Linked DNA regions of Homo sapiens: region 1 is reported to be linked to region 2. The links are microRNA targets in miRTarBase. Many come from high-throughput screens and were not tested one by one. Region 2 holds a microRNA gene; the other region holds the end of a gene's coding sequence.
What was found. Region 2 holds the annotated microRNA hsa-miR-4738-5p (ACCAGCGCGUUUUCAGUUUCAU, at 1,795-1,816, opposite strand). A microRNA usually pairs through its seed, bases 2 to 8, with sites in the 3' UTR of a target mRNA and lowers its output. Matches are read on the target gene's strand: a 7mer-m8 pairs with bases 2 to 8, a 7mer-A1 pairs with bases 2 to 7 and ends in A, and an 8mer does both.

Region 1 (4,380 bases), not on the chromosome of region 2:
GAGGCGTCGGCGTTCAGGCCGTTTGCTGAGTGTCCGCTGAGCACCTTGTTCCCAGTCCCCGCTTTGATTCAGACGCCCACAGCCTGAAACTGAGCTGTTTCCTCCATTGGTCTCCACAGAGTGTGGATAGGTCTCGATGGCCCGTCTGGGTTATCCTAGGGCTGTGATGGGCATGTCCAGGCCACTCCGTGCATCTGCCCGGAACCCCAGTGTCCAGTGCTTTGCAGATGGGAGATGGAAGGTCAGAGACCTGAGCCTCCAGGGCAACAGGAGGGCCACTGTGGGGAGTCCCTGGATGGTGATGTAGGCCTCCAGCCAGGGCCGTCCACCAGCGCGACTGACCTTGGATGAGAAACTCCATTCATGAGCCCCCACTTCCACAGCTGGGGCTGACAGTATGGGCCATGTAGCCCTGCATGGACAGTCAACAGAAAACCTACGTGCAGCTCTTGGCCAGCACCCACTGCCCATAGTATGTCCGCAAACAGCAGATTGGTGCTGGGGACAAACCACTCACAGGCACATCCCTTCTGCAGTGGCCATTCTGCTCCCTGCCCTGAACGCCCGACCAGGGCAATCAGGCACACCGGCTGCCACCCCAGGCCACTGCACCAACTCCTGGAGGTCGGTGCTGTAGCTGACTTATCCAAGGAAAGTGAGGCACAGCAAGACTGAGGTCCCATGGCTTATAGGTGGCAGCCCTCTGCCTCCCTGAGGCTTGCTCTTGACTTTCCAAATTTGGCCTTGCTTATCCCTTGCATAATCTAAAAGAGCAGCTTATTTTTATAGAAATAGTGGGTGGCAGACAGCACGGAAAAGTGGAGAGTTCTGCCCTGCCTGATGCCCCACCCCTGCCCCTTCACCCCACCCTTCCCACATACCACATGGTTGTTACTAAGTCGGCTTTGTAACAACCAGGGCAGCCCAGATGCTCTGGTCCCATGCCCCACTCTCCATTCTGTGACCTGCTGTGGATCCTTTTCCCAGAGCTGTGGGATGGAAATCTCCCCCGCAGCCCTCAGCTCCTCCCAAGCCCACTTTAATAATTAAATACCAAAGGAAGGAGGAGGAAAGTGGAGGAGAGCGGGCAGTTCCCGCTCATCTCATCATCTGTGCAGTCTCCCTCCATTAGCACAGAGAGCGAGGTGGTCCAGGGAGGTGTGGGAATCCTGGGGCTTTGCGGGGGGATGGAGGGGAAGAAAGCTTGTTCCCTAGCAAGACTGCAAACACCTGCACCTGAGAAGGGCCACGGGTTGGGGGAGGCCTAGTTCCTGGGGTTCACCTCTGCCCCTCCCGCCTTAGGATCCATCAGGGCAGATGCCTCCTCCTAGAGTCGGACCCAGCCTATTCCTGACCTCCAGGCCCTGCTACTGCGTGAGGCTGTCCACCCCCTCACCGGCCCTGGCTCTGAGCTGTTGCAGCAGCATCCAGGCAGGGAGGCCCCTTCCTTCTAGGTCAGCAGCTCCCCACGAGGACTCAGGGCTGGAGTCCTGGGGTGGGGACTCCTAAGGAAGAGATGAATTCCCAGGAACTGGGATGCTCTGGGCCCTGAGGAGGAGCCAGGACCCCAGATGGACCCCCCACCCAGCTGCCTTCAGGAGAGGGACGTGCTTCTGCCCACTTGTGTAGCTAGGATGCCCGTGCTGGTGGGAGCTTTCGCCACTGGACGAGGTCCTAGCCCTGCCTCCTGGTGTGTCTGCTCAAGGCCCCACCTGGCTTCTCTGAGTCGCTGGAAATGACCTGTTGGACATGGTGGTCTCCAGCTCTGCTCTTCTGGGATCCTCTGACCAGCGCTGGGGAGGGTGGGACTTGGAGGATGGCAGAGCTCGTTCTGGGCACTGGGAGGGAGCGGGTGGGGACATGCAACCTTCATCACCTAGAGGTCCTGGAACTACGACATCTGGGCCACATGAGATCCCCTCTTTTCCTAGAGCGGTGGTCTTGCTGAGAGGACCTGACCAGGATTGTTAGAAAGGGGAGCATGGAGGAGCAGTGGGCTGAGGAGCAGGGGCAGGAGGGCAGTGGAGGTCAGGTTGGCCGGGCAGTGGATCATCAGGGACACAGAACTGGGGGGTCAGCCCACTGAGGGCTGGACCACTTCACCAGGGGCAGGCTGAGCAGGCTCCAGGGCCTGCAGTTAGAAGGCCACGTTCCAGGTGGCTGGGTGCGTGAACCTGGTGGTACTGCCCACGCCTCTACTCATTCCCACCTGGAGCTCGGAGTGCTGCCCGCCTGCCTGCTCCTGGCTCTGCTCTGCAGACGAGGGGCCCAACTCTGTCAGCCACGTTTCCTGACTGGGGGCACCAACACCTCTGCCATGATCTCTCTCCATGGGACCATGGGGTGAGCAGGCTTGCCTTAAGGCTTGTCTCAAAGGAGCCAGGGTCCTAGGTTGCACACCAGGAACCCAGGATGGGGCCCTTCTGGGGGCTGACCAGAGGCAAAAGGGCCAGGCAGGAACCCTTCTAGCGTGGCGCTGGCTGGGCTGTCATCTTGGGAGGGCTCCCAGCCTATCGCTGGGTTGTAGAGAGATGTCTGGGCACTGGGAGGCTGGCTCAGGGATCTCAAGACAGAGAGGGGCATCCTGAACGGGGGCAACAGGAGGAGAGGCAGCAATCCACTCCACGGAGCCTCCGGTGGACACAGGCAGGACCATGGTGGCCGGCCCAGAGCCTGGCATGGAGGAGGTGAGAGCTGTGGCTCCCAGAGGCCGTGGGGGCCTCCGAGCTGAGAAGGGGCACTGGGATACGCCGGCACAGGACAGCCTGGCTGACCACGGCTCCCTCTGGCAGGGAGTGGACAAGCCACAGGAGCGGGAACACGGGTGTGTGCAGACCCAGCCCCAGGAGGAGGCCTGAGAGCAGAGGCAAAGAGCAAAGTGTGCGGGAGAGCTGGCGGGGGGTGCCACCCGTCCCGGGACTCTGTGCCCTTGGGCGTCCTCACTGTCGGAAACAGAGACCCAGGGTAGGACTGTGGGCATGAAGCCTTCCTGGCTGCAAGTTATAAAATGTTTATTGATATACATTTTGTCTTTTATAAAACTTCCGTTGGCCACATTGGGCCACTGTGCACCACAGTGCCAGTCCCCAGGTGGCCAGGGCGGAGCCAGTGTCCACTTTCGGGTGGGGGCTGGAGCCAAGAGGCTGTCCAGGAGCTGCCCAGTGGGTCCTCATGGCCTGCGGGATACCTCAAGTGCTCCCGGAGGCAGCCTAGGACTGGCTCGTCCCGGAGTCAGAAAAGGCAGGTCAACTACCCAAGGCGGCCAAAGGCCCTTCCTGTCTCCAGAGCCTTGACATAACCAGAAATCCCCCCATCAAAGTCACCAAATGACTCGACGGGGGGAAGGGAGGTTGTTTGCAGAAAGACTTAGCTACAAGGCATGTGAACCAGAACTTTCTTCCAGACACCATTTCCTTCACATTTGCTCACTGATAATGCCTTAAGAGGATCGAATCTCTGGAACAGCCCTGAATGGCAGGGATGAGGCTGCTGGCCTGGTGCTGGCTGGGACACAGTCAAGGAGGGCTGACCCAAGAGGCAGAGGTGGCTAGGCTGGGTGTTGACCTCCTCTCTTTTACCAACCAGCCTAGGGCAAGGAGGGGCCCCACCACCTGGGGGCAACTTCTGTACAAGAGGTCTCTAGGGGAGCAGAATGGGTGGGGGAGCCGGGCAGGGGCCACAGGGTCTGTTTGCTGGTGGCTGCCCAGTCTCCCAGCCACCCCTGGAGTCCCCAGCCCAGGGAGAAGGAGGCCCGAGGAGAGGAAACAGATCTTTCTTCTCCTGTATGGACTCAGAAGCAGGTGCCCATTCCTGTCCCAAGGCGAAGGGTCTTGGAGGCCGCTTCCTGCCCCTGCCTCCTCCAGGCGCTGGAGTCTCAGGAGGCGTTCCCCGGGGGACACTGCATCTCCATGGTGACTGTGTTGGGCGTGCTGCCCCCGGCCTCCCCCAGCTCAGCGCCGTCCCGCAGGGCCCGCTGGAAGACCACCCTGAGCGGCTCCCACAGCCGCTGCGACTTGTCCCTCCCGGCCAGGAAGTAGACGATGGGCTTGGCGCTGCTGTTGATGCAGATGCACAGGTCAGTGACGTACTCGGGGAAGGGGGCCGGGATCTGGAAGACCCAGAAGAGGAACCAGTCGATCCCTAAGTAGATGGAGGACACCAGGAAGACGGAGACCATGGCCAGGATGACGTGGTTGAGCTTGGCAGAGCGCTGGCGCCGTCGGGCCCGGCACTCCACGTGCAGGATGAGGGCCAGGCAGGGCAGCACCATGAGCGGGCAGCAGAGCAGGAACAGGAGGATGCCCAGGAAGATGTCCATGTGCCTGCAGGCCGCGCCGGGGGCCCCGCGGCCCAGGAACACGCAGAAGTAGTTGTGCAGGC
Region 2 (4,380 bases):
GATCGTGAGGTCAGGAGTTCGAGACCAGCCTGACCAACATGGTGAAACCACGTCTCTACTAAAACTACAAAAATCAGGTGGGCGTGGTGGCACACACCTGTAATCCCAGCTACTCAGGAGGCTGAGGCAGGAGAATTGCTTGAACCTGGGAGGCAGAGGTTGCAGTGAGCCGAAATCACACCACTGCACTCCAGCCTGGGCAACAGAGCAAGACTCTGCCTCAAAAAAAAAAAAAAAAAAAAAAAAAAAAGGCTGTCTCTCTTACTTCGTAGTCATGCAGGTATGTTTCACTTTTTCCAGATTGGTACAACGGAGGAAAAGCAACACAGGAAATGAGGAAGAATAAAAAATGTTTATACAATGAAAAAAAGCAGAAGAAAACAAAACAAACAAAACCCAACAGTGAATGTGATGTAGTCTTGTAGGCTACTGTCCTAGTTCCTCTTGTTACCAACTTGCTGAGTAACTTTGTGCAAGTTACTTAGCTTCTCTGGGTTTCGGTTTCCTCTTTTGTAAATTAAGCAGTTTGGATGATATCATCTCCCAACTCCACCAGTACACACTTATTCTGAAGCTCATGATATACATCTATTATTTAAAATCCAGTGCTGTGAACTCTATTTCTTCAGTCAGATCACACTTGAGTATTGTGAGGCTAACATAAACCAAGTAACTTGCGTTTAATCATAGGATTAAAGCAATATACTACAACTTTTATTTGTCCTTTTGTAATTTTTCATTTTCAAACGCCCCTAGTGGCTAAACGATTTAGCCTGTTTAGGAAAAACCAGTTTCTCAACTCTGTGATGTGGCTTCTGATGTGAGGGAACTTGGAGCTAAATAAAATAAGTATGTGTCACTCAAACATTAACGATTTTCCATTAGCCCCACCACCCTTCATCCCTAAGGTTATTTGGAATGTGTTTCTTTAATGAGATAATCATTTGTTAATATAATCCCATCTAAGAAAATATAAATCAAAACCAGTGGATTTGAAATAGATTCAATATGAAAAACCAAATTAAATGACAACGGTTAAAATATCTACGGAGAACATTCTAAAACTCACAGAAACAAATGCCTAGGTCTGGGGCATCTGGCTTATTTTATAAAGTGAAGAACTTTGCTTGACTGGTGGGAAGCAGAGAGGGGAAAGATAATGTCCCAAGTAAAAAGGCTGACGTCCAGACAAGAAAACTAGAGTGGATAAATACGGGCACGCCCTACTCAAACCCAGGCCTTTCCTCTGGACCCTGTGATGCTTCTCAACACTGGCAACTTGTCAGTGTACCTCAGAGACTATTCTAGGCGGAGATTAAATTCGTCCTTGGCCCTTAATGTACTGGAAACAAGTTGGTCAGGCCAGGTGTCAGGCTGAGAAAGCACACAAGTCGTGGAGTTCCAGGTGTCGAGTTTGGCAAAGGTAAATGAAGCGCCTCGGCAAAGGCGCGGGAACTGTAGCGTGCGGTGTACCTCCTCCTTAGCAAAGCTTTCTCAATGCCTCTTAGGTTAGACCCGCCGCAGGGATGAAGGGGTTGCTGGCGGATTGCAGGTGCCTGCAGCACAGGGCCCAGAACTAAGAACCGACAACACAGATTCTTAAGCCCTGCTTGGAGCACTGCTCTGAGCTGGCATTAGAACCGAACCTAGCTGTACTAAGTATAAAGGCAAAGTAGTTATGACACTGTTGGCAGTGAAATTATACTTGGAACTCTTTCGCAGAAATCGCTAGGGCCTCCCTAGCTCTGGGCCCCTTCTCCTCCAGGCGCTCCAGTTTCATGGAAAGGCTTCCCTATGAAACTGAAAACGCGCTGGTAAGAAGGAGAAATGCGACCGGACTGCAATTCCCAGAAGCCGTCGCAGGCCCTCAGCATCCGGGACACTAGCAGCAAGGATCCCTGGGTATTGTGGTCCTGTGCTTTGCCAGCAACCCTCTGCCGACGGTAAAATTCCAGCCGGACATAGAACCACAACTCCCAGCAACCCCTGCTGCCGTGTGGGGGGTCTTCACGTTCTCGTGGCGCGGCGCAGGCGCACTGGGTCCTCGGCGCGGACCGCGCAGACTGAATAATAAAAGGGGAGCGGCGAAGAGGCAGGAAGACAAGACCATGTCGAAGGGCCCCGGGCCCGGCGGCTCCGCAGCTTCCTCGGCGCCCCCGGCCGCTACCGCTCAGGTGCTGCAGGCACAGCCCGAGAAACCGCAGCACTACACGTACGTAGAGCCCCCCCCCCCCCGCCGCGCGCGCACGCCTGACGTCAGCGGCCAGCGTGAGTCACGCGCGCAGGGAGAGCGCGAGGCGGCCTCTTCCTCCCCCCCTTCCTCCTCCGGCCCGGCCCAGACCGGTTCCAACCTGCTGGGGCCGGTCCCAACTGCCTCCAACTGCCACCAACCTCTGGTCGGGCTGTGGGGCGGGAAACTCGGTCCCGGCCGCCGAGTGGGGAAGGCGGGAGCTCGGGATGCAGAGTGCACTCTCCCTAGGCCAGGCCTTCGAGGCCTAACTGTTCCTCAGACCATAAAACCACAGTAGTAGGCTCCTTTGGGGCAGTGAGAAGTCCAAGACACAACCAAGAGGAGTTCCGTGGGGTCCAGCCCCAGAACCCACCTATGAATGATGATTAACGTGAAGTCCTGTCAGGAGATTCCGTGCAGTTTGCGCAGGAAGCCTTTTGTGTCCCTAAGGCTCGTAGGTTGTCCACGAGGGCCACACTTGCTTGAATTCACAGTCGACGTAGATAAACATGCAAAGATGGAAACGTGTCCGTGCGTGCCCATGACCGTTTCCCTCGCGGGCTGTGCGGAGCCTGAGTCTGGGAGCCCGAAGGTGATGGGTTCCAAGTATGTCTGCAGGCTCAGCAGAAATGTAGCATTAGAGGGAGCCCCAAATACTGACACTACAGGAGTCCAGCAGGATGGGAAAACCTCTTCCTGGAAGTCTTGCATCTGTGTGCTTTTAGGTCGCTGTCTTCATTTCCTTCAAGCCACGTTAAGCATTCCCTAGAGTTAGGTGATGTGGGAGAAAGATGAATAAGGGGCGGTTTCTCCTGTTAAGCAAAATGTTGCTTTCCATTTTCCCTGATGCTCTGTGAATGCCTCTCATCCCCATGGGCTCCTGAGTGATGTGCATGTTTAAAAGGATCCCCAGCTGCGAGAGGTTTTGGAACCTGGGGGGTTGAACAGCTCTTAAGTTGTTCAGTGAACGAAGAACAGAATCATCTGTTGGAGTAGAAAGAACTCAAACCAGTCAGGAGGAACTCTTGTTATAGAAGACCTTGGGAAACTGTTCTGGGGTTGGGGAACATTGGTTATAGGAAGTGTATGGTTTCTTTGTGGGATTCTTTGTTGTTGGCTGAAATCATTTAAGCTTCTTGACTACAGTCTGACTCACGTTAACCATTCCTTTTCTGATATGGACATTGCTTTCCTGGTCCTTTCTTACTGGAGATCTTTCGCAGTCTTTCCATTGATTTTGGTGAGATGTTCTTAGCTCAAAGACTACTGATGAGTTGAATGGTGTAGTCTTGATTTTCGAATCTGGAAACTTCACGTAATTGGAACTTCTTTATAATCTCTGGTTGCTCAGATCACTGTTTTTAGCAAAATAAACACATTTTGAGTCACGAGAGTCTTGGCTTCAGCAACTTGTGTTTCTGTGTTGTGTTGTCATTGAGCATACTATGGAATCTGTAATAGAAAGGCTTTCTTATTTTGGAATTGACAGGTGAAACAAGTGAACAGCTGATTAAATGTCAGTATCTGAGTCTTTGTCCTCTTGATGCTCATTTGTTTAAAACCTGTCTTTCCTGCCGGGCGTGGTAGCTCTCACGCCTGTAATCACAGCATTTTGGGAGGCCGAGGCGGATCGCATGAGGTCAGGAGTGAAGAGACCAGCCTGCCCAATATGGCAAAACCCCGTCTCTACTAAAAATACAAAAAATTAGCTGGGTGTGCTGGCGGGCGCCTGTAATCCCAGCTACTCAGGAGGCTGAGGCAGGAGAATCGCTTGAACCCGGGAGGCGGAGGTGGCAGTGAGCCGAGATCGTGCCACTGCACTCCAGCCTGAGCGACAAGAGCAAAACTCCGTCTCAAAAAACAGAAACAAAAACAAAAAAAAAGCCTGCCTTTCCATTCCTTGTGGGTAAGTATAGAGTAATGGGACCTGGCTCTTGAGGTGTCTTAGGAAATCAACAGGAGTAGGTGAAATAGCCAAGCTTGATGGGAGGTTGTAGGTGTTCTTATCTCTTTGTCTGTTCATATGTATGTGTGTTTTTATATTTGTATTTCCAAAAATCAGAGATAGAAATCAGTGGTCTTTCTTGCTAGACTTACTAGCATTCAGAAGCTGTGATGACCTGGAAAACTTCATCCCCTAGTCCTCCTAG

Region 1: miRTarBase lists MRGPRF as a target of hsa-miR-4738-5p. The part of its 3' UTR that is shown has no 7-base or 8-base seed match.

Annotation. Positions count from the first base shown.
Region 1 is chr11:69,001,404-69,005,783 of GRCh38, forward strand. MRGPRF (MAS related GPR family member F) reads right to left here. Exons shown (of 3, transcript NM_145015.5): 3 at 2,995-4,380. The coding sequence ends at 3,875. Among named protein-coding and RNA genes, the nearest start is that of MRGPRF-AS1, 8.8 kb to the right of the region's middle. RefSeq lists enhancers at 1,007-1,507, 2,468-2,969.
Region 2 is chr17:75,782,773-75,787,152 of GRCh38, forward strand. It overlaps MIR4738 (microRNA 4738), which reads right to left and starts at 1,835; the gene lies at 1,749-1,835. It overlaps UNK (unk zinc finger), which reads left to right and starts at 2,034. Exons shown (of 16, transcript NM_001080419.3): 1 at 2,034-2,212. The coding sequence starts at 2,109. RefSeq lists enhancers at 386-565, 2,128-2,706, 2,296-2,695, 2,707-3,284 and a silencer at 2,096-2,235.